2 separate regions of the Homo sapiens genome follow, and region 1 is linked to region 2. Evidence: fine-mapped expression QTL. Tissue or cell type: monocytes after LPS. Region 2 holds a variant in brackets; the other region holds the start of a gene. All regions are shown on one strand. Distances are from middle to middle. Region 1 holds the start of THUMPD3-AS1 (THUMPD3 antisense RNA 1). Region 2 overlaps SETD5 (SET domain containing 5).

Evidence for each region. PIP is the estimated chance that this variant, and not a neighbour inherited with it, causes the effect.
Region 1: THUMPD3-AS1 starts here. The variant in region 2 is the best candidate, but not a certain one, in a credible set for the expression of THUMPD3-AS1 in monocytes after LPS (Quach 2016, PIP 0.75).

Annotation. Positions count from the first base shown.
Region 1 is chr3:9,391,099-9,402,386 of GRCh38, reverse strand. It overlaps THUMPD3-AS1 (THUMPD3 antisense RNA 1), which reads left to right and starts at 5,764. Exons shown (of 4, transcript NR_132781.1): 1 at 5,764-5,827. SETD5 (SET domain containing 5) reads right to left here and starts at 4,772. Exons shown (of 23, transcript NM_001080517.3): 1 at 4,410-4,772. RefSeq lists an enhancer at 3,905-3,954 and a silencer at 4,565-5,874.
Region 2 is chr3:9,416,264-9,427,551 of GRCh38, reverse strand. SETD5 (SET domain containing 5) reads right to left here. Exons shown (of 23, transcript NM_001080517.3): 2 at 3,026-3,085. Among named protein-coding and RNA genes, the nearest start is that of SETD5, 24 kb to the right of the region's middle. The variant T/AAT (reference allele first, on the strand shown) is at 6,720.

The DNA of each region.
Region 1 (11,288 bases), 25 kb after region 2:
GAGGCACGATGCGATTACAAATTCCTTGCTCAGTGAGGGCACATATAAAGCAGACTGAGCTTACCTTCATTGTTTATTTTATCCCATAGTTCCCTTCGCTAAGTATTAAAGACAGAATGCATTTTGTCCCAGGGTAGGGGAATTCTCTCCAATGTAATGCTTTCTAACAGCACCTCCCCCCAAAGTTACTGGGTATCTTTTACGCAATTCATAATTAAAGATACAATAAAACAGTTTTCCTAAGACTTATTTAACAAAATGTATATAGACAAGTGAAGGAAACTATATTCTCTCCACCTTTCATGAACTTCCCAGAATCCCACCCACAAGATAAATCAATCATTTTGCCACATATTTTGGAATTTTTGGCAGTAAGGAATGGTACCAATCCCTGCCCATCACGGGTACACTACATTACTTTCTAAAGAGTGCCTTTGAAAGAATACTTTAAATTACAAATGACTACCAGTTATATCACTAAATATACGATGCACATTTTGCAAAGTTTGATGCCTCAAACAAAATATACTGGTCAAGAAGTTTCAGTTTTCAACACTTGAAATACAATTTTTATAAATAAAATTCACTGCTAGACCTTCTGACTTCAAATTAAACTGATGAATCACCAGAGTTCAGCCAAAAATTATTTTTAAAATTTTATTTTATTCATGATCCAGTTCCCCTCTGATAAAATGTATCCAATAGTCATTGACTGCTGTTAACTATGGCCTAATTTTTCATAAGTTATTTCAACATGGAGAGGATAAAGCAAAAGTAATTATCTGCAAATCTGTACTTTGCACTTTATTATTTCCCCATTCAAAGGTAAAAATGAAATAGTCATTCTCCCCAGAAAAGCCAGAATAATTTCAGAAAGTCAGTTCCTGGACACAAAACAGTATCAAAAGATATAAAAAAGTTTTCAAGGGTATAACTTAAGTAAATCCTTCTATGAAAAGGGCCTGTATGATCCTCTAAAAAATGATAATATCAAGAGCACAAAAGGTTCCAAACAACAGGAAATTCGAGTGTAAAAGCAATTATTTTATATAGCAACTTAAGCCACAGAGTAAAAAACTACAAACATTTTTATCTTAAACCCTAAGTATGTCAAACAGCCAGTATACATGAAATCATATTTATCTGCTATTGCATCTTATCTATGTGATAGTAATAAGAATTGGAACCTCCTAAAATAGTATCCATTAAAGGTTCTGTTTCATTGGTCTGCTTTTATTACTGGGAAAACAATGTGAGCCACATTTGTGAATGACAAAACTCATTTCCATTCTTTTTGGTTCTCTGCCACAAATGCCAGAGTGATACTACAAATTATAGATGTTTGTGAGATTTAAGTACATTTACACGAAAATGAACAAATCAAAATTCTGAGAGAAAAAAGTATAGGATACACGAGTCTTGGGGAAGAAAAACAGCACACAGGAATATGTCCAGTATTGCATATAATTGGTGGTGGTGGTTCTCCTTCAAGTTTTTCCACGCTCAGACTGTTTTGCTTAATCAGAGATCATCCTAATGTTCAGGAGTTGTGGGGGAGGGGAGATCACCTAAGGGGCTCAGAGGCCATCTTCTCAGTATCCTGAACTAGACTTATTCGATTTCTGCATATTTCTTCTGGTCTGTCCTACATTTCAGATGGATTATGGCCAAAGACATATATTTGTGATGTCAGAAGGCTATATCCAACATGTATATAATGAATCAATCTTATAAGTCAAACTCCAAAGAAAATATCTAATCTGGAGAAGTTTATTACTAATATACAAATTAAAAATATTTATTTAGAAACCACTCCAAAATGGCACCTTTTTAGAGTTTAAGAGTTCAAGCTTAGTAAAATGTTTAGCAAATCGTCTATAAGGTAAATGTGGTCTAATCGAAAGGATGGAGACACATAACAAAATAATAAGAATTGATTCTATGATTAAAGAGATGGAGGAAGGCATGATATGTGAGCTGCAGGAAAAAATTCCTGTTATTTTCTTCCTATTGTGGTTATCAGAAAGATTCTTAAAATTATTACTTGGGTTTTTAAACTGATTGAAAAATTAAAACTCTAATGGAACTTTTAGTCCTATCCAAGCACAAATGTCTAGATAAAAAACAAAAATCTGCCAAAAAACAAAAATCAAATCAAACAAACAAAAAAAGAAAGGCTTTAACCATGATCCAGTTTCCAGATGCCAATATCCATAAATGGGTAGGAGATTATGAATTACTAATTCCCATCTCCCCACCAATAAAAAGCAAACCAGCTCAGCAGTGAAAATTCCCAGAAAAGCAAGGTTTCTTCTTAGTCCTGAAGCAGCCATCGCCTAAGTGCTGCTCCCTGCAGCCAGCAGCATTAATGGACGCTGCACTGCTGTCCTTCCCTGGAGACAGCAGCCAGCACTACTCAAGCTTCTCACGTAGCAACCAGAGCTCCAGAGCCAGCAGCTGCTGCTGCCTTGTATACTCACCCCTGTGATCCAACCCAAAGGAACAACCTTCTCTTTACCCCACCCCCACTCCTTACACACACTTTTTTTTTTTTTTTTTGGACCAGTGCTCCATGCCAGAAGGGCTGGAATTATGCTTTTAAGAAAGAAACAATCCTAAGGTCACCCTTTTAAACCAAGGCCTTTTATTAGAAAAATCAACATTTACCAAATTCTAAATATCCATTTTAATTAAGCCAGCAGTTTAGGAGTGAAGATTAAGCTTTGGTCTTTTGAAAGCCAATTTCCCAAGCACTCTACAATCTAATTTAAATTTGCAGCTAGAAACAGAGCCTTGTGTCATGTCCTACCAAAGGGCATAATTCATTTTTCTACACATAATGACAGTCTGAGTAAACCTTAAAGACTCTAATCCCATAACAGGCCAGAATTTTTGGCTACAGAAGAGAACTAATGATCCTGAGAAAACTGGAAGAAATCCAATAGAAAAAAAAAAGCCCTACGTCCTCTATGGAGCCCAGAAACCTCTGATTACGTGGGTATTCTCTGCTTTAGTCCTAGCTCAGATCCCACACATCTAAAATTACCACTTAGAACTTTCTGTGACCTAAAAACATTAATAATATAAAATTAACAACCAAAAAATAATTTCAAATAGGGAGTACACACTCTCCTAAAAAGCTCAGCACACTCCACTCAGCTGGATCCTCCCCAATCACAAGTATAGCTATGTAACATCTGTCCAACAAAGAAATGTAAATATGACCTTGGTCACAAATATGTCATCTAAAAACTTGTTTAGTCAACTGATGAAGGTAATTAGCACAGAACTTGGGGATTCGTTCAGTACCTATGTGCAGGAAGGAAACTGGAGAAATGAACTTAAATATAGACAAAGCCCAGTGGAACCCAGAGGTCTGGGAAAGAAATGAGTTACCGGTGAATACATTGCACAAGTAACATGAGAAAGCAGAAAATGCAGGTCATACACGCACCCCTGACCCAGACCAGCAGAGCTGACTGCAGCATCCATATCCAAGAGAAAGACCACTGACGCCCAAGAAGTGAGACAAGCAAGGACTCTATAGAATCAATTAGCATAGAAGGGGCTTTCCCAACAGTTTAACTTTCCCTCTCATGCGATTTACCTACTTGAACCAGGGCTCTTTCCTACACTCCTCTTCACATTCCCGACTTACACGCAGAGGGAAAGAGAATTCATAAAGGGAATATTTTTCTGCCTTTGAAGATATTCTCACAAGATCGTTCTCCACGCCCAAGGCAAGTAAAACGACACAATCTGGCTCAACTCCAGGCTCGAACCCTACACATTCAACGAGGCTATCTCAGACACGCTGTGGCACACGCCACGGGGAGCCAGAGAACGTGTGGTGGGGGTGGCGAAGGTAATGCCTTTGGGAAGCAGCCATCTGAGGTGGGAAGCCAGAAAACGAGAGGGAAGGCGTCCAGGAAGATTACGGAGGGGAGATCGCGGCCCCCAGAGCGATCAGAGTTGTCTGTCACAAGGCCGCGAGAACGGGGGTAGGGAGTGGGGGATCGGGGAGAGAAAAAAAGTATGCCTGTGTATTTCGAGCGGAGGGCAGCAAGAGGCCTCTCCTCAAGGGAAAGGTAAACGTGGAGTAGGCAGTTCCCAGGAAAGGGGGTGAAGAGGCGTTGGGGGAGGGGAAGCGTCCTGACCCAGGAAAAACATGAAAGGGGGAGTTGGGTCGCCTAGATTAGAGGGGGATCTCTCTCCCTGGGAAAATGGGGTGTTGCAACGGTGTGTGCAAGGCGGCGAGGGGGGTGAGAAGTGGCAGCATCCTCCTAAGAGCTTGGGGAGGGCCAGGCCCACGACCCAAGGAGAGCGAGCGCGGGGAGACGGAGGAGGTGACCCTTCCCTCCCCTGGGGCCCGATCGTGAGGTTCGGTCTCTTTTCTGTCGGACCCTTACCTTGTCCCAGGCGCTGCCGGGGCCTGGGCCCGGGCTGCGGCGCACGGCACTCCCGGGAGGCGGCAGGACTCGAGTTAGGCCCAACGCGGCGCCACGGCGTTTCCTGGCCGGGAATGGCCCGTACCCGTGAGGTGGGGGTGGGGGGCAGAAAGGCGGAGCGAGCCAAAGGCGGGGAGGGGGGGCAGGGCCAGGGAAAGAGGGGGGCCGGCACTACTGTGTTGGCGGACTGGCGGGACTGGGGCTGCGTGAGTCTCTGAGCGCAGGCGGGCGGCGGCCGCCCCTCCCCCGGCAGCGGCGGCGGCGGCGGCGGCGGCGGCGGCGGCGGCAGCTCACTCAGCCCGCTGCCCGAGCGGAAACGCCACTGACCGCACGGGGATTCCCAGCGCCGGCGCCAGGGGCACCCGGGACACGCCCCCTCCCGCCGCGCCATTGGCCTCTCCGCCCACCGCCCCGCACCCATTGGCCCACTCGCCGCCAATCAGCGGAAGCCGCCGGGGCCGCCTAGAGAAGAGGCTGTGCTTCGGCGCTCCGGCTCCTCAGAGAGCCTCGGCTAGGTAGGGGAGCGGAACTCTGGTGGGAGGGGAGGTGCGGTACACTGGGGGGATGGGTGGCTAGGGGGGCCGTCTGGTGGCTTGCGGGGGTTGCCTTTCCCGTGGGAAGTCGGGAACATAATGTTTGTTACGTTGGGAGGGAAAGGGGTGGCTGGATGCAGGCGGGAGGGAGGCCCGCCCTGCGGCAACCGGAGGGGGAGGGAGAAGGGAGCGGAAAATGCTCGAAACCGGACGGAGCCATTGCTCTCGCAGAGGGAGGAGCGCTTCCGGCTAGCCTCTTGTCGCCGATTGGCCGTTTCTCCTCCCGCCGTGTGTGAAAACACAAATGGCGTATTCTGGTTGGAGTAAAGCTCCTGTCAGTTACGCCGTCGGGAGTACGCAGCCGCTTAGCGACTCTCGCGTTGCCCCCTGGGTGGGGCGGGTAGGTAGGTGGGGTGTAGAGATGCTGGGTGTGCGGGCGCGGCCGGCCTCCTGCGGCGGGAGGGGAGGGTCAGTGAAATCGGCTCTGGCGCGGGCGTCCTCCCACCCTCCCCTTCCTTCGGGGGAGTCGGTTTACCCGCCGCCTGCTTGTCTTCGACACCTGATTGGCTGTCGAAGCTGTGGGACCGGGCCCTTGCTACTGGCTCGAGTCTCACATGAGCGAAACCACTGCGCGGGGCGCGGGGGTGGCGGGGAGGCGGGCGTTGGTACGGTCCTCCCCGAGGCCGAGCGCCGCAGTGTCTGGCCCCGCGCCCCTGCGCAACGTGGCAGGAAGCGCGCGCTGGAGGCGGGGGCGGGCTGCCGGCCGAGACTTCTGGATGGCGGCGGCCGCGGCTCCGCCCCGGGTTCCCACCGCCTGAAGGGCGAGACAAGCCCGACCTGCTACAGGCACTCGTGGGGGTGGGGGAGGAGCGGGGGTCGGTCCGGCTGGTTTGTGGGTGGGAGGCGCTTGTTCTCCAAAAACCGGCGCGAGCTGCAATCCTGAGGGAGCTGCGGTGGAGGAGGTGGAGAGAAGGCCGCACCCTTCTGGGCAGGGGGAGGGGAGTGCCGCAATACCTTTATGGGAGTTCTCTGCTGCCTCCCGTCTTGTAAGGACCGCCCTGGGCCTGGAAGAAGCCCTCCCTCCTTTCCTCCTCGCGTGATCTCGTCATCGCCTCCATGTCGAGTCGCTTCTCGATTATGGGCGGGATTCTTTTGCCTAGGCTTAAGGGGCTAACTTGGTCCCTGGGCGTTGCCCTGCAGGGGAGTGAGCAGCTGTAAGATTTGAGGGGCGACTCCGATTAGTTTATCTTCCCACGGACTAGAGTTGGTGTCGAGGTTATTGTAATAAGGGTGGGGTAGGGAAATGGAGCTTAGTCATTCACCTGGGGCTGATTTTATGCAACGAGACTGCGGATTATCACTACTTATCATTTTTGGAGCATTTTTCTAGAGACAGACATAAAGCATGATCACCTGAGTTTTATACCATTTGAGACCCTTGCTGCACCACCAAAGTGTAGCATCAGGTTAAATCTTAATAGAAAAATTTTAGCTTTTGCTTGAGAAACCAGTGCTTCCCTCCCTCACCCTCTCTCCCCAGGCTCTCTACCCCTTTGCATCCCTACCAGGCATCTTAGCAACTCTCACTCATACTTGATCCCATTTTCCATTTGTTGTACTTGCTCCTCTAGTATTCAGACATAGCACTAGCTTTCTCCCTCTCTTGATCTTGGGTAGCCTGGTGTCTCGCGAAACCAGACAGATTGGTTCCACCACAAATTAAGGCTTGAGCTGGGGCTTGACTCTTACCCAGCAGTGCTTTTATTCCTCCCTAGTTCACGTTCTTAAATGTTTATCTTGATTTTCATTTTATCCTTTTTCCTTAGCTGGGATTCTGTCCCTGACCGTCTTCACAGTCCAGGTGATCTTGACTACTGCTTTACAGAGAATTGGATCTGAGGTTAGGCAACATCTCCCTTTTTCTTCCTCTAAATACCTCTCATTTCTGTTCTTACCAGTTAGTAACTGATCTCAGATGCCTGTGTGATAGCTTCCAAATTGCTGTCTCTGTCTTTAGTGTTATCTTTTGATCCATCTTACATCTTGTTAGGATGATTGTCCTAAAGGAAGATAGAGCATGAAAATGACAGGTGAAACTCCATTACTGGCTTGTACTGTTTACAGCAAGTTGTCTAACCCGCGGGCCGCATGGGACCCAGGACAGCTTTGAATGCGACCCAACACAAATTCGTAAACTTTCTTAAAGTTTTAGGAGTTTTTTTTGCGGGGTGTTTTTTTTGTTGTTGTTGTCTGTTTTTTTTTTTTGCTCATCAGCTGTCCTTTATATGTGGCCCAAGACAGTTCTTGCAGTGTGGCCCAGGGAAGCCGAAAGATTGGACACCCCTGGTTTACAGGATGAATTCTGTTCTCGTGAATGTGATGCATAAGGTCCCTGGATAGACTTTCCTCAATTTAACAGCTTTTTCATTTTTCACTATTTTCCACATACTACACACACAAATATGACCTCTCTCCTGAAGTCACATGGAATGAATTGCAGTTACCCAAATCATAGAGACGTCATATATCTTTGTGGGGTGGTTCTTTTTGGAATGCTACCCTTGCTGCTTTTAATCCTGCAGATTCAAATGTCATCTCCCCTTTGGTCATGCCTTCCATGGTCTGTTGTTCTATGACCCAAACTGCCCTTTTAAAAAAGCAGTTTTCTTCTGACTCCTGAGCAGTTTGTACTGCGTGGGTCATAGTAATTCTGGGGTTGTTGTCATTGCTGATTTAAATTACCTTAACTATTCTGAGCTTTTTGAAGGAATAGTGTCTTGTACTCCTGAGCTCCTAGTATACTCTGATGTCTAGCCAACTTTAAGTAAATGGAGTGAGCGACATGTAAATGTCTTTATGGTTTGACATTTTATTAATCTTGAGCATTGGAAAAGTGGCTGGTATGACTAAAGAACTGAATTTTTATTTTTTATCTAATTTGAATTGCAACTGTGGACAGTATAGCTGTAGCCCCGGACTTGTTCTGTGGATTACAGAATACGTGGACATTGATGGTTTTCTCTTTTTACTGAGCAGTAAGGAAATAAAAGCTGAAGCTCTCTGGCCCATTACATTTCATTTAACTGCTTGTTTTGTTTTATTTATTATATATTTAGCTGAAAGCTAAGTCCAACAAACCATTTTTAAAGATGTGCCTGCCTTGGACAACAGTGAAAGCAAGCGTTAATGAGTTTGGATTTCAAAAAAAAATGCATAATGAATTTTAGGGAGGTGAGATTCCATTAAACTGTTACAGGAGCTACATAGTTAAATATATCAGAACTTGAATGAAGAATAGGTCTGTGTGATACAAATGAACCCAGCCTAAATTTCTGTCCTACAAGTTTTCACTTCCTGGAAACACTTGATTGGAGGAGCTCTAAGCATCATATCTTGAGTTATAGAAAACAATCACAAAGTAAGTTTTATCCTGAGGAATTATAATACCAACATTTTAACACCAAATGCTTTTTATATTGCTAATACAGTATCTTACACATTTTAATTATCTTTTTTTTTTTTTTGAGACGGAGTCTTAGTGTCACATACTGGATTGCAATGGCATGATCATGGCTCACGCAGCCTTGACTTCCTGGGCTCAAGTGATCCTCCTGCCTCAGCCTCCTGAGTAGCTGGAACTACAGGCACACGCTTCCATGCCCAGCTAATTTTTTTGTGTTTTTTTTTTTGTAGAGATGGGTTTTTGCTGTGCTGCACAGGTTAGAACTCCTGGGCTCAAGTGATCTTCCTGCCCTAAGCTTCCCAAAGTCCTGGGATTACAGGTGTGAGCCACCGCCCTAGGCCATTAAATATACTTTTTAAAAAGACCCTTATGTCAGCGATCTTCAGGCCTCCTGTGTGTGGAGACAGTTGTCTTAATGTAGATTCTCAGATCACCCAAAAATTCTGAATTCTTTTGGGGAAGGTGGAACCCCACAGGGCAGGCAGTATAACTCAGTATCTTCAAGTTCATTTGCTGACTCGGATATGCCTATTTACCTGCCAAAAATGATTACAGTTTCAGAGAAACTCTTCTCAATTGTATAGTATGTGACCCTCAATTTTTCCTCAAATGAACTGTTTTTTCCTCCTCCTAAAAAATAACAGAATGGGAATTTTGAGAGGCAAAGAGGAATAGTAATTAATATTTTTGGAAACTTGCAGGTCAGGTTTTCCTTTTAAAAGGAATGTTGAAATATATTCTTTCGAACAAGAGAAGTTCACCTTATTTGTGTTTCTCCTGCTTAATTGCAATCCTTAAGGAAAGTGATTTTTCAGTGCCTAAGCACAGAGCTGGAAGCTCAATAAATGTTAGTTTTGTTGGTTTATACGTGAAATTGATTCTCAAGTAATAGTTAAGCTCAGAAAACATATAAACAAGGCTTTTTGGGAGAGACTTCAGGGTCCCATTTAACCTACATCTCCTAATATTCTATTCATAGAGGAAACTGATGCCTCATGGTCTCTGAGTACATCTATCCCACCATTCAGTTCTTCTTTGGGTTTCCTGTACTAATCATTGCAGTTATCCTTTTCCTGCACCTTACTTCCTTGGGCTTTTTGTTTAAATTAACCAGCTACCTATCTCCTTTTCAAGTAGTTACATACTATTTCTTACCCTTATAAGACAAATTTATTAAGTATATTACACGCTTGTACTTGGATGAGAAAGCTGGTGAAACTTTTGTCAGGGCTAGTGTGTGTGTGAGATTTGCAAAATGTAAACTTAGGTTACTTCCATATATTTTTTGTGAGTGGAGGTTTGGCATAATTACATAATTCTCTTTTACAACACTCTGGTTTGACTGTTAGGTTAATTGTAGAGCACCTTGTTAGGTCACAAATCCAGAAGTCTGGTACTGGACTTTGCAGGTTGCTTTCTTAGTGGCATATTAGTTTATATTAGAGCACATACTTCTCAAGAAGCCTTTTTTTTCTTATCTGTGACTCTCTCTTCTTGAGATGGGATAATGTATTGGATTATTAGAGAAGTGTGAGTATTGAATCAGATAGTTTTATTTTATCTAGAGCAGGGTTAAACCTGATGAATTGTTTCTGCTCTCTCATGGAGTATATCTTCTTGGTGACAAAGACTTTTCTGTCTCTGATTTTTATCTTAGTCGTGGTTACATTTAATAATCCTGCTTTCCAGCTTTTCCTAGAGATCAGTCATCAGTGACCTTTTGTCTTGATACTTTGTCACCTTTTGTTTTCTGGTTTTGGGTTTTTTTTTTCTTTTTTAAACATATGTAACATTGGCTTTTCCTGCTGACAACAGTAACAGAGTTTCAGATCATGTTTATAGAATGGTTATTTCATCACCTAACTAATCTCACCTCTAGTGTATGGATTCTGGTAAAGTCAGTCAACAGTCTTCACAGCCTTTTCTATTTTTACTGACCTTGATTTAAAATCTAATCTTAGACCTTGAGGTATTGCTTACGAATAGTGTAATAATGAGGTACTACTTATAACAAATAATGGTAACATACTCTAGTGCGTACTATAGGCAAAAGCTAATGGAAACATAGGTAGAAGAAATGAAGTAATAGTTATTGAATGCTTTTTGTGTACTGCAGGTGTGGAAACAGGAAGAGAACTAGAACTGGAAGTAAAGCATTGAAGATGTGACTGAATTGCTGCAATCTCATGATCAAATTTGAATGGATGAGGAGTTGCTTTTTAGGGATGAGCAAAGAAAGTGGTTTCTCGAGATGGAATCTACTGGTGAAGTTGCTGTGAACATTGTTAAAATGCCAATAAAGGATTTAGGAATTACAGAAACCTGGTTGATAAAGCAGTGCCAGGGTGTGAGAGAGTTGACTTCAATTTTGAAATAAGTTCCACTGGCTGGGTGTGGTGGCTCACACCTGCAATCCCAGTACTTTAGGAGGCCGAGACTGGTAGATCATTTGAGGTCAGGAGTTCAAGACCAGCCTTGCCAACATGGTGAAACCCCACCTCTACCAAATTAGCCAGGTGTGGTGCACACCTGTAGTCCCAGCTACTTGGGAAGCTGAGGCAGGAGAATCTCTTGAACCAGGGAGGAGGAGGTTGCAGTAAGCCGAGATGGCGCCCCTGCACTCCAGCCTGGGTGACAGAGTGAGACCTTGCGTTTAAAAAAAAAAAAAAAGGAAAAGGAAAAAAAAGTTCTACTGTGGGTAAAATGCTATCATGCTATCAAACAGCATCACATGCTACAGAGAAGTCTTGTGAAAGGATGTCAGTGTGGCAAACTTCATTGTCTTTTAAGAAATTGCCACAGCTATCGTAATCTTCAACCACCACCACCCTGATGAGTCAGTAG
Region 2 (11,288 bases):
TTTGAGACAGTTTCACTTTTGTTGCCCAGACTGAAGTGTAATGGCGCAATCTTGGCTCACTACAACCTCCGCCTCCTGGCTTCAAGAGATTCTCCTGCCTCAGCTTCCCAAGTAGTTAGGATTACAGGCGCCTGCCACCATGTCTGGCTAATTTTTGTACTTTTAGTAGAGATGAAGTTTCACTATGTTGGCCAGGCGGTCTTGAACTCCTGACCTCCGGTGATCCACTCACACCTCAGCCTCTCAAAGTGCTAGGACTATAGGCGTGAGCCACCGTGCCTGGCCGGTTAATGTAAATTGTAAATGGTAGATGGTCTGAGATGCTCCAATCTTACTTTGATATTAATGCAAATAAAAAAAATTGTGGGCTGGGTGCAGTGGTTCACAACTGTAATACCAACACTTTAGGAGGCCAAGGTGGAAGGATCACTTGAGTCCAGGAATTTGAGACCAGCTGAGACAACATAGTGAGACCCCAACTCTACAAAAATAGTAAAAAAATATCAGCCAGCCATGGTGATGTGTGCCTGTGGTCCCAGCTACTTGGGAGCTGAGGTGGGAGGATCACCTGAGCACAGGAGGTAGAGGCTGAGGTGAGCCATAATCATGCACTGCACTCCAGCCTAGATGATGAAGTGAGACCTCTGGGTATGACAATACGCCTGTTCCTACACCCAATTGGAGGTGACATATAGCTGGGCTGGGAAATGACTGGGCCAGATGAAGTGGCTCATTCCTGTCATCCCAGCACTTTGGGAGGCTGAGGCAGGTGGATTGCTTGAGCTTGGGAGTTCGAGACCAGCCTGGGAAACATGGCGAGATCCTGTCTCTACTAAAAATACAAAATTTACCTGGTGTGCGCCAGGCGCGGTGGCTCACACCTGTAATCCCAGCATTTTGGGAGGCCAAGGTGGGTGGATCACTTGAGGTCAGGAATTCGAGACCAGCCTGGCCAATGTGGTGAAACCCCTTCTCTACTAAAAACACAAAAATTAGCTGTAGTGGCACACGCTGGTAATCCCAGCTACTCAGGAGGCTGAGGCAGGAGAATCTCTTGAACCCAGGAGGTGGAGGTTGCAGTGAGCCGAGATCACGCCACTGCACTCCAGCTTGGGCGACAGAGTGAGACTCCATCTCAAAAAAAAAAAATAAATCTGGTGTGGTGGCATGCACCTGTAGTCCCAGCTAACTCAAGAGGCTGAGGTGGGAGGATTGCTTGAGCCTGGGAGGTGGAGGTTGCAGTGAGCTGAGATCATGCCACTGCACTCAGCCTGGGCAACAAAGTGAGTCCCTGTTGCCAAAAAAAAAAAAAAAAAAAAAAAAAAAAAAAAAAAAAAAGGGACTGATGAACTTTTTTGCCTTTAGGCCAGTCTTACACATGTATGTTTCCTTTCCCTAACAGTATATCCAAACAGAGACCTTGGCAGTACATCTTCTAAGCCTTTGGGAAATTGAAGTAAAATCTGTAAATGATAAAACAAGAACACTCATCAAGTAAACCCAAAAGACAGTTAAATACTGGGGGCTGTTGGTCACTACTCTTTCTATTAGTCTTACTGTATAATTCAGATTAAAAGAAAAGCCCCAAAGCTGTCTGACCAGATAATCATATGAAAGTCTGATTATCACCGTACCTCCCCTGATCAGCAAAGGGAATCTGAATTGTTTTATATTTTCAGTAAAAGACTTAAACCAAAAACCGTACTTAATATCATTAAAAACCCTTTGTTGTAGCCATTACGACTGTACACCCATTTAAAAAATGCATGGTTTCACGGTGAAACCCTATCTCTACTAAAAATACAAAAATTAGCTGGGCATGTTGGCATATGCCTGTGATCCCAGCTACTTGGGAGGCTGAGGCACGAGAATCGTTTGAATCTGGGAAGCAGAGACTGCAGTGAGCTGAGACAGGGCCACTGCACTCCAGCCTGAGCAAAAGTGAAACTCTTTCTCCAAAAAAAAAAAAAAAAAAAGTACAGTTTCTAGATAAAAGACAAGTTATAAACCCAAGATGATAGTTGATATTTTTCCTAGAGCAATTTTTAAAAGATATACTAAAAGGAAAAGATGGAAAAGTTACTTCAGATAACATCTTAATGAGTGAATAAATGATTGCTACATTCACTAATGAAACACCAACCCAGCTATTTTGGATAGTTGATGAATCCTTAAGAAACATTAAGTCAGCCCGGTGCAGTGGCTCACGCTTGTAATTCCAACACTTTGGGAGGCTGAGGTGGGCGGATCACCTGAGGTCAGGAGTTTAAGACCAGCCTGGCTAACACGGTGAAACCCTGTCTCTACTAAAAATACAAAAAAATTAGCCGGGCACGATGGCGGACGCCTGTAATCCCAGCTACTTGGGAGGCTGAGGCAAGAGAATCGCTTGAACCCGGGAGCCGGAGGTTGCAGTGAGTCAAGACTGTACCATTGCACTTCAACATGGACAACAAGAATGATACTCTGTCTCAAAAAAAAAAAAAAAAAAAAAAAGAAACATTGTCGGTAACTATAAATTTCTATTTCATAAAAATTATTCCATTTTCCTTGTGTCTAGTTTAACATGACTGTTTCATTCTTCTGATGAAAGCAACCATAATAGGTTAGCTTGACCATCTCATTCTAACTAATGCTTTAATAATGATGAGGCTTCTTAATTCAAATTCTGTTAATAATCCCAAATTTCTCAAATATTACCCTAAGAATAGTTCCTTCCCTAAGTAACTCTGTAAAATGTAGCTATTAAAATGTTAACCGAGGAACATTTAACAGATCATCTAAATGCAGTATTTTCTTATTATAATTTGTTTGTTTTTTCCTACCAGAATATAAACTCTATGAGAACAGGGATTTTTATCCACTGCTGTAGTTTCAATGGCCAAAACAATAACTGACACGTAGAGAAGTTCCAGAAATATCTGCTAAGTAAATTATAATCACAATTTACTACAACATGATTCCAGCAGTCATTAAAATGCAAAAAATAAAACAGAAATTAAAAGGATTTACTTGGGTCAGTCACCTTTATATAGACTTCTGAATATGAAGTCCCCCCAAATTATCTGCTAGTAGTTCTGAAGACCTAGAAAAAGTTGAGACAAAAATTAGTACAGAAAGAAATAACATTGATGAACACACAGAATGGAATTCTACAGCTATATTATGTTTCTGTATACTGTCTTGTTTATCATCCTACATCTATACTATCTCGTTTACCACCCTACGTCCATCCGGCACTGAATTTTTTGCCCTTTAATTTTTTATTTTTCCATAAAGCCAGAAACGAGATGGTAGAGAAGGAAATTATTTGACTTAAATGGTAAATACTTATGTCACTGGCTAATTTTTCCTCTTCCTTCAAATTAGAATTATCTCATTTTCCAAGGGATCCCTTCTTTTTCTCTCTCCTAAAAGGTGCTTCCCTTCTTCACTGAACACTTCTCAAATTCAGAGTTCTTTCTTTAACCCGATGTCCGACAACTGTCCAGCCAGACAAGGGGCCATCATCACCCATTAAATTACAAGTCCATATTTATTACTCCTTTCTTTCCCTTCATTCCACACCATCTAGTTTCTTGTCCTACTATAAAAAAGAGTGATAAAAAGGAGTCAGTTCTATTTGCGGTCAAATGGAAACATGCTTAAAAAATGGCGCTTAAATTAATTTTCTACCTTCCAAAAAGGAAGGGAAAATGATCAGTATCCTTTAAGTCTCTGGTGTTTTTTCCTAAAAGTCAAATTTAACGCTAGCCAGAGTTATTAACACCTTAAAGATTAACATATCATAAACATGAAAAGAGCTATTCATAGGATTCCAGTTACCAAGCATTAGAACGCATGCATTTCATTTATGTTGATGTTTTATGATTTCTAATTTTAAAAAACTGGAAAATAAACTATTTTTTAGAAACGATTTAAAATAGTACACCCAGAATTAGAGAAATAAAAGTATCAAAGTAACAGTAAAAGGAAGGAAGAAATAAAGTAAATCAAGGAAGAAGCAATAGCAAATAAGAAAGAAAAAAAGGAAAGGAGGAAAACAGCGAAATAGATGTGAGTGTACAGTAGGGGGTAAATGAATGCATCACAGTTTCAATTTATTATTAATTTAACTATTTCCAGAACAATCCATCAGAATCCACAGGAACACTAGTAAGTTCTTGGATTCAGAAACAGACACAGCCTGTATCTTCCAGTAGTACCGAGTACTCTCTTTAGGAGGTGCCATTTACATACAGTTTCTAGGGAAAAGGATGTTAAATAGAACATGCCAGAAATGTTTCTTAATTACCCCATCTTTTTAATTGGTTTCAGAAATGGCCAACAGTCTCTGTATCATCATTCTGACAGTCTCTTCTCTATATGACTTGCTGAAAGCACAAGACCTGTATGATCTCCCTGGTCACTCACAGAGAAGACAAACAAAAAGTGTTTTATGAACAATTCCAACAGATTTCAGAAGAAGAAATTGCATCAGACAGGTGAGGCGGAAGCAGCTGGCAGACAAAAGTCCAATAAACAACCAATCCAACGAAAGAAATTCAGAACAAGTCTGCTTCAGTAATCCTGTGAAGAGGACTGGCAGGAAGAGGAGTGCCGCTTCAGAAAGAGAACAGGCCTCATATGCTTCAGACAGTCTTTGTATTGAGGCTGTGGACCTTGGCCATTCTCCCAGAAATGATGCAATCCTGATGAACAAGATCTGCTGCCAGAGAAACAATTGTTAACAGCCTATGCAGACAGCAACTCAGCCAAGGAGCAATCTCTGATCAACTCTCTCCATAAACCAACAGAACGCCAAAATCTCTCTTCCTCAATTTCAGTGTCTGACAAAACATAAAGTGAACACAGTATATATTAAGATACATAAGAACAAGCCATTTTCTCAAAGGGTCCTTTTTCTTTTAATTCCTTAGGCTGTACAATATCCATTATTAAATTTCAGATAAAATACTGAACATTTTTTACTTTTATAAATACAATTATCCAAGCACATCAATAGTAATAACATAAATATGAAAATTTATACTTATTTTCCTCATTCTCATAAGAAAACCTTTTTGGGAGGCAGTGGCTTCCCTAAGCATAAAAACTGCTCTGAAATCTATCATCCAGCTATAACATTTCAAGTAAACACAAATATACATACACTCTAATTCAGAGACAGAAAGTATATTTCATAGATATTTTTGAAAGTAGATAAAAGTCAATGTTAAATATTGGCATCTATCAGAGAAAAGAGAAAATCTAATCTTGCTTAGGCTGACATATAAGGTATGCTGATAACAACCACTTTTTTGCAGGGCAACAATATTACTTCAGATCTTACTAAAGGATCAGATTATTTTCATCTTATTAGCCACGATTTACTAATTTAGAATCTAACTTAAAAATATCCTCAATTTAATAATCTTCCCTAGAATCCTCATCTCCTAGGCCTGGTTTCTTTTTCAGAAGTTTTGGTATCAGGTTTTTCACACAGTATTATAAAATTATAAAAAGTTATTTTTTTCTCACTAAATAAAAGATCCTGTATAAAGCACTTCTCTAAACTTCAACTAGCCAAAAGTCATGACTAACCAAATTTCTTCCTTTTGAAAGCAATAACCCTTAAACTGGGATTCATGAAAAAACACAAATATCTAAGATATATCCTGAAATAAATCTATTCAGCCCAATCTATTACTTCTATATACTACTAAATAACGAAAATGAACAGATATACAGAATAGCTCTGAAGCACTAAAAAAATCTTTAATAGGTCAATAAATGAATAAATTTAACTCAGGAAGAGAAAACACTTTTTGGGAATATTTCAAAAGGGTTAAAGTAGCTAATAAGTTTTTAAAAATCCAATTTCTGAACTTGATTATTCAAAATTTTGTTGTTACATATAGGCTGAATTTCTTCTTAAATACATCTATAGTTCTTCGATTTATCTTTTGAATGACTTTACCTTGTATGAGAATGAATGTGGCAGCTGCATTATATACTTATCTTCATCTCCATCTCAAAGTCAAATATCTCAAGTAAAATCACCGTAGCTGTACCATGACAAACAGCCTTTTACCTTAGGAGAAGAAAAGTATGCTAGGAAAAAGCACTCTTAGAGGCCAGGTGCGGTGGCTTGCACCTGTAATCCTAGCACTTTGGGAGGCTGAGGCAGGAGGATTGCTTGAGCCCAGGAGTTTAAGACCAGCCTGGGCAACATAGTGAGACCCATCTCCTAAAAAAATAAAAAAAGAAAAGAAAAAAAAGGCACTATATTAGGAGTTAGGAGACTTGAGTTCTAGCCTACAACATAATTAGTGACCTCAGAAAAATCACTTTACATAGATGAACCCTAAATTCCTCAAAGTAAAATCTTCATTGTGTTGTCTTCCTGCTCCAAATTTCTATGAATCCTGGCACTGCTGCCAACTAGCTCAGGCAATTCATAGAATGTCTCAAAGTCTCAGTTTTCTCATCTGTACAATAAAAAAAAAAAAAATACCTGTTGTGCTGACTCATAGGAGCACATGGAACAGCATTTGTAGCAAGTAAGAGCTTAAATAACTTTCTGGTCCCTTTAAGTATATGTGAAGAAAGAGGAGCTGCTGCTAATAACCTGAATATGGCTAAACACTGTTTTTACTCTTCTCCAAAAGCATATATTTCAAGTTTGCTACAGCAGATAATGTGGAAAGAAAAAATGTGAGAAACATGAAAAAAAAAAA[T/AAT]GAGAGAGAAGTGTTAAGCATAAGAAGAAACAAATATGAGTTACTGGAAAACAAAGAGATGAACTCTAAAAGAGCACTTGGAGATACAGTGAAAAGTTCATGTATTTGGAACAGTAAAATTAGGCTTATAATCTGAAGCAAGTTAATGCAAGCAAAGAATTTTAGGGGTTCGGGACTGAAAGGAAAAAAGAAAAGAGAGAAACACTGATTGGGGTAAGCACTGAGAGACAGGAAACATCATGATTTAGTAATTTAAAGCAAAAATAAAAATTTCCTTTTCTCCCATCTCTTCTACAATACCAGTTTATTCCTTGATTCCTTTGCCTAAATTTATACTCCCTCTAGGAGCTACTGAGCTCGGCACAATAAACCGATGTCTATAAGAAATCTAAGTTTACTAGAATAAAAGGCCATTAAAAGACAACTGAAAAAAAATCCTAGTCTATATTAAGAATTTCCTTCTCCGTAAAAAACTTCATAATTAGTGCGTATTATAGAGACCAAGTCATACTTAGTAGTATGTGGAGCAGAAGAGGGGAGTGGCAGTAGGATAAGACTACATATCATAAATAACAGAATTATTATTATTATTATCTAAATATTGTGATCATAAATTATTTTAACACTGAAGAAAAATATTTTATTTACAACCCATTTAACAATGATAAAAAGGTATTTACTGCTCAACTAACCAACAATACACAGACTCTTTGTAACCTTAACAACAATCAGGAAGATTTTAGACTTCTAAGTACCAAATAAAGATGATGCCCTCAAATAATTTAGACTGACTAAACCTCTTTAAAGAGTTATACTCTCAACACTTTCTGAAGGTTCTGTTCTACTGTGTTCTGAGGCTCAGAACATGTGTTAGAGACCAATGTACCAAAGTAGAGTAGGAAAAGAACTTCTCATATCTCTACACGTGCCTCCTCTCTGTGAATTCAGATCTTCTTCATTTTCAAACCCCAAAATGGGAGCCACTTTTACTTACTATAGATGAAGTGGGTTGTGCACATTTATGAGCCATTAATATCTGTATTTTTACTTTCATTAATTTAAGCAAAATTTCTCCAACCGATGAACAAACAGAAATGAAGAAATAGAGCTACAAAAAGATTAACTTGTATGAAGTTCACTACACACCTACAGTAGTAAAGTTCAGAGGAAAGAAAATTAAGATGTTAATATATAGCTTGTTTATTATAGTAATTACTACTTACCTTAGATAGCAACATCTGAGTTATAACTAATTGTTTTTATTTTTATTTTTGAGACAGGGTCTGTCACTCAGGTTGGAGTGCTTTGGTGCAATCACAGCTCACCGCAACCTCAACCTCCTGGGCTCAAGCGATCCTCTCACCTTAGCCTCCCAAGTAGCTGGGACCACAGACGCATACTGCCATGCCCAGCCTTGTTTTTATTAAGTACCAATTGGTGCTATGTAAGACAATTAGGTCCAGATAAAATTCCTGGCTGTCTTGGGATTTATATTATGTAGATTTGCTACTTTTTTCATTCATTCATTCAACAAACATGAAGTAACTACTATTAATATACATATATTACTATGTTAAGTGCTATTTTAAGAGGTTTATTTTATCCAAAGTAGAAAAGGGTAGGCAACTTGCAAACTGTTCAGGTTTGCCTATGTGCCAAGTACTGCATTTATACAACCATGAAGGGGGAGAAAAATCCTGTAAGTGGGCCGGGTGTGGTGGCTCATGCCTGCAATCCCAGCACTTTGGGAGGCCAAGGCGGGTGGATCACCTGAGGTCAGGAGTTTGAGACCAGCCTGGCCAAGATGATGAAACCCCGTCTCTACTAAAAATACAAAAATCAGCCAGGCATAGTGGTGGACACCTGTAATCCCAGCTACTTGGGAGGCTGAGGCAGGAGAATCGCTTGAATCCAGGAGGTGGAGGTTGCAGTGAGCCAAGATTACACCACTGCGCTCTAGAAACCCTAAAATGAAAGTTATCTGCAAATTCCCAATGTTTATGTATGTGATTCACATTTTTTTTTTTTTGAGACGGAGTTTCGCTCTTGTTGCTCAGGCTGGAGTGCAATGGCAGGATCTCAGCTCACTGCAACCTCCACCTCCCGGGTTCAAGCAATTCTCTTGTCTCAGCCTCCTGAGTAGCTGGGATTATAGGTGCCCACCACCACACCCAGCTGATTATTGTATTTTTAGTAGAGACGGGGTTTCACCATGTTGGCCAGGGTGGTCTTGAACTCCTGGGCTCAGGTGATCTGCCTGCTTCAGCCTATGTGATTCACTTTTAAGACTACTACTGACTGGATGTCCTGTAAAGTTCTTACACACTAAATATTAGATCTTAGTTGCATTTCTACAAATTTGGGCTAGGAGCTTCAAAATAAACCCTAGCTGAAGCAATATTCAGAACCAAAGTACTTTCTTATAGTTGTCCTTTGACATAACCTTTAATTCTTTTAATAGACCGCACTAAGCTCTAAATTTCTTCTTTCTGTAATGAAAAAAACTTATGCTAGCCATCTGTAATCTAGCTGGCATCTGTAGAGGTCTGACTGCAAATGCAAATAAACTAGAAGATTTGAGTGCTTCGTTTCAAACAAATTATCAAAACTCTGTTCTAGCACTTTGGGAAGCCGAGGCGGGAGGATCACAAGGTCAGGAGATCGAGACCATCGTGGCTAACACGGTGAAACTCCGTCTCTACTAAAAATACAAAAAAAAAAAAAATTAGCCGGGAGCGGTGGCAGGCGCCTGTAGTCCCAGCTATTCGGGAGGCTGAGGCAGGAGAATGGCGTGAACCCGGGAGGCGGAGCCTGCAGTGAGCCGAGATCGCGCCACTGCACTCCAGCCTGTGCGACAGAGCAAGACTCCGTCTCAAAAAAAAAAAAAAAACAAAACTCTTGTTCTAGCAGTTCTGCCTCAGAAGTTTAAAATATGATGCTTCATTTTTAATCACCTTTGGAAAGAAACCTAGACACTGTAAGAGACTTATTTTAGAATATGTGGGGAAAAAAATAAAGAATAAAATAATTAAAAAAAAAAAAAGACTTGGCCAGGCGCAGTGGATCCCGCCTATAATCCCAGCACTTTGGGAGGCCGAGGCGGGCGGATCACGAGGTCAGGAGATCGAGACCATCCTGGCTAACATGGTGAAACCCCGTCTCTACTAAAAATACGAAAAATTAGCTGGGCATGGTGGTGGGCGCCTGTAGTCTCAGCTACTTGGGAGGCTGAGGCAGGAGAATGGCGTGAACCCGGGAGGCGGAGCTCGCAGTGAGTGGAGATCACGCCACTGCACTCCAGCCTGGGCGATAGAGCGAGACTCCGTCTCGGGGGGAAAAAAAAAAAAAAGACTTATCTATACTGATTTACTAAAAGACAGGAGACAAAATATGGACTTCACTTTCATCATAGGAACAAAATCACTTGGTATACTCCATTATGACACCCACATGGTCCAAATCCATGCCCTGGCCAAATGAGGGAAAAAACCCTCTTTTTTGTTGTGCTGGCACTAGCACCTGACTGAAGAGCTATTCTCCTTTGAAATTTTTGGAGACTTTTAGCAAACCACATCAGTCGCCTCCCTATGATTTCAAGGTAGCATTATATAATAGCAGTGAACTGGTCTCACTACCTCTGGGGTGTGAACCCTCCAATCTACTCTATATTCTTCCATGATGTTATCCCTTCTAGAGCATAACTTTGGTTACTATCATTGCATTATCTGAAATCTACAAATAATGGTTTCCTTAATGCTTATTGGGCTAGTCCAAACTCCTGTGCCTGAATGGAACAAGAACATTTTTGTTAATTAGCTACTAACCTGTTTCCTTCTCCTTCAAAACTTTGTTTACACTATTCATGCTTTTATTTTTTATCTTAAAAAAAAAAAACTTTATGGTGAAAAACTTCAAATAAATATAAAACCAGAGAAAACCCAATGTTCCCTACCCAGCTTTAATCAACAATCAATTCATGGCCAATCTTATTTTATCTATAACCTCTCTTCCTTCCAGGATTAGTCTACAGCAAAATCCCCAAAATACCAGTTGTGTCTATGACATCTGGTGGGTGGAGCTATCCCTTGTTTATCCTTATAATGGGTATAAGGATACATAAGAGGGGCATGTTTATCATAATGATAGGTCATGGTGATAAGAAATCAAAGGTCATAATTCTTTAGCAAAAGTTCCAATGAACAAGAAGCTTATGCAATTCAACAATTGCTAGATTTGCTGAGTAATGCTTAGGTTTTACAATTATACACTTGTGGTTATTAAAAAAAGTCTTAATCATTGAAATATTTTAAGAAAAAAATCACTGTAAACTATTTTTATGACACGAGTTTGTTGATAAATTTCTTGCATTCTTGGGAGCAAGAGCTAACTGCAAGTACATACATGACCCACAGCTGCGACACAGCATTCCTATATTTGCTATATGCCAATATACAAAAATGAATGACACAGGAGAAACACCCCAAAGCAGGCAGACAGTGAGTGTGATATTCCATAAATCTGTGTACTAAAGATAAGGACTGATTATATCACAAAAGTGACGGCTCACAT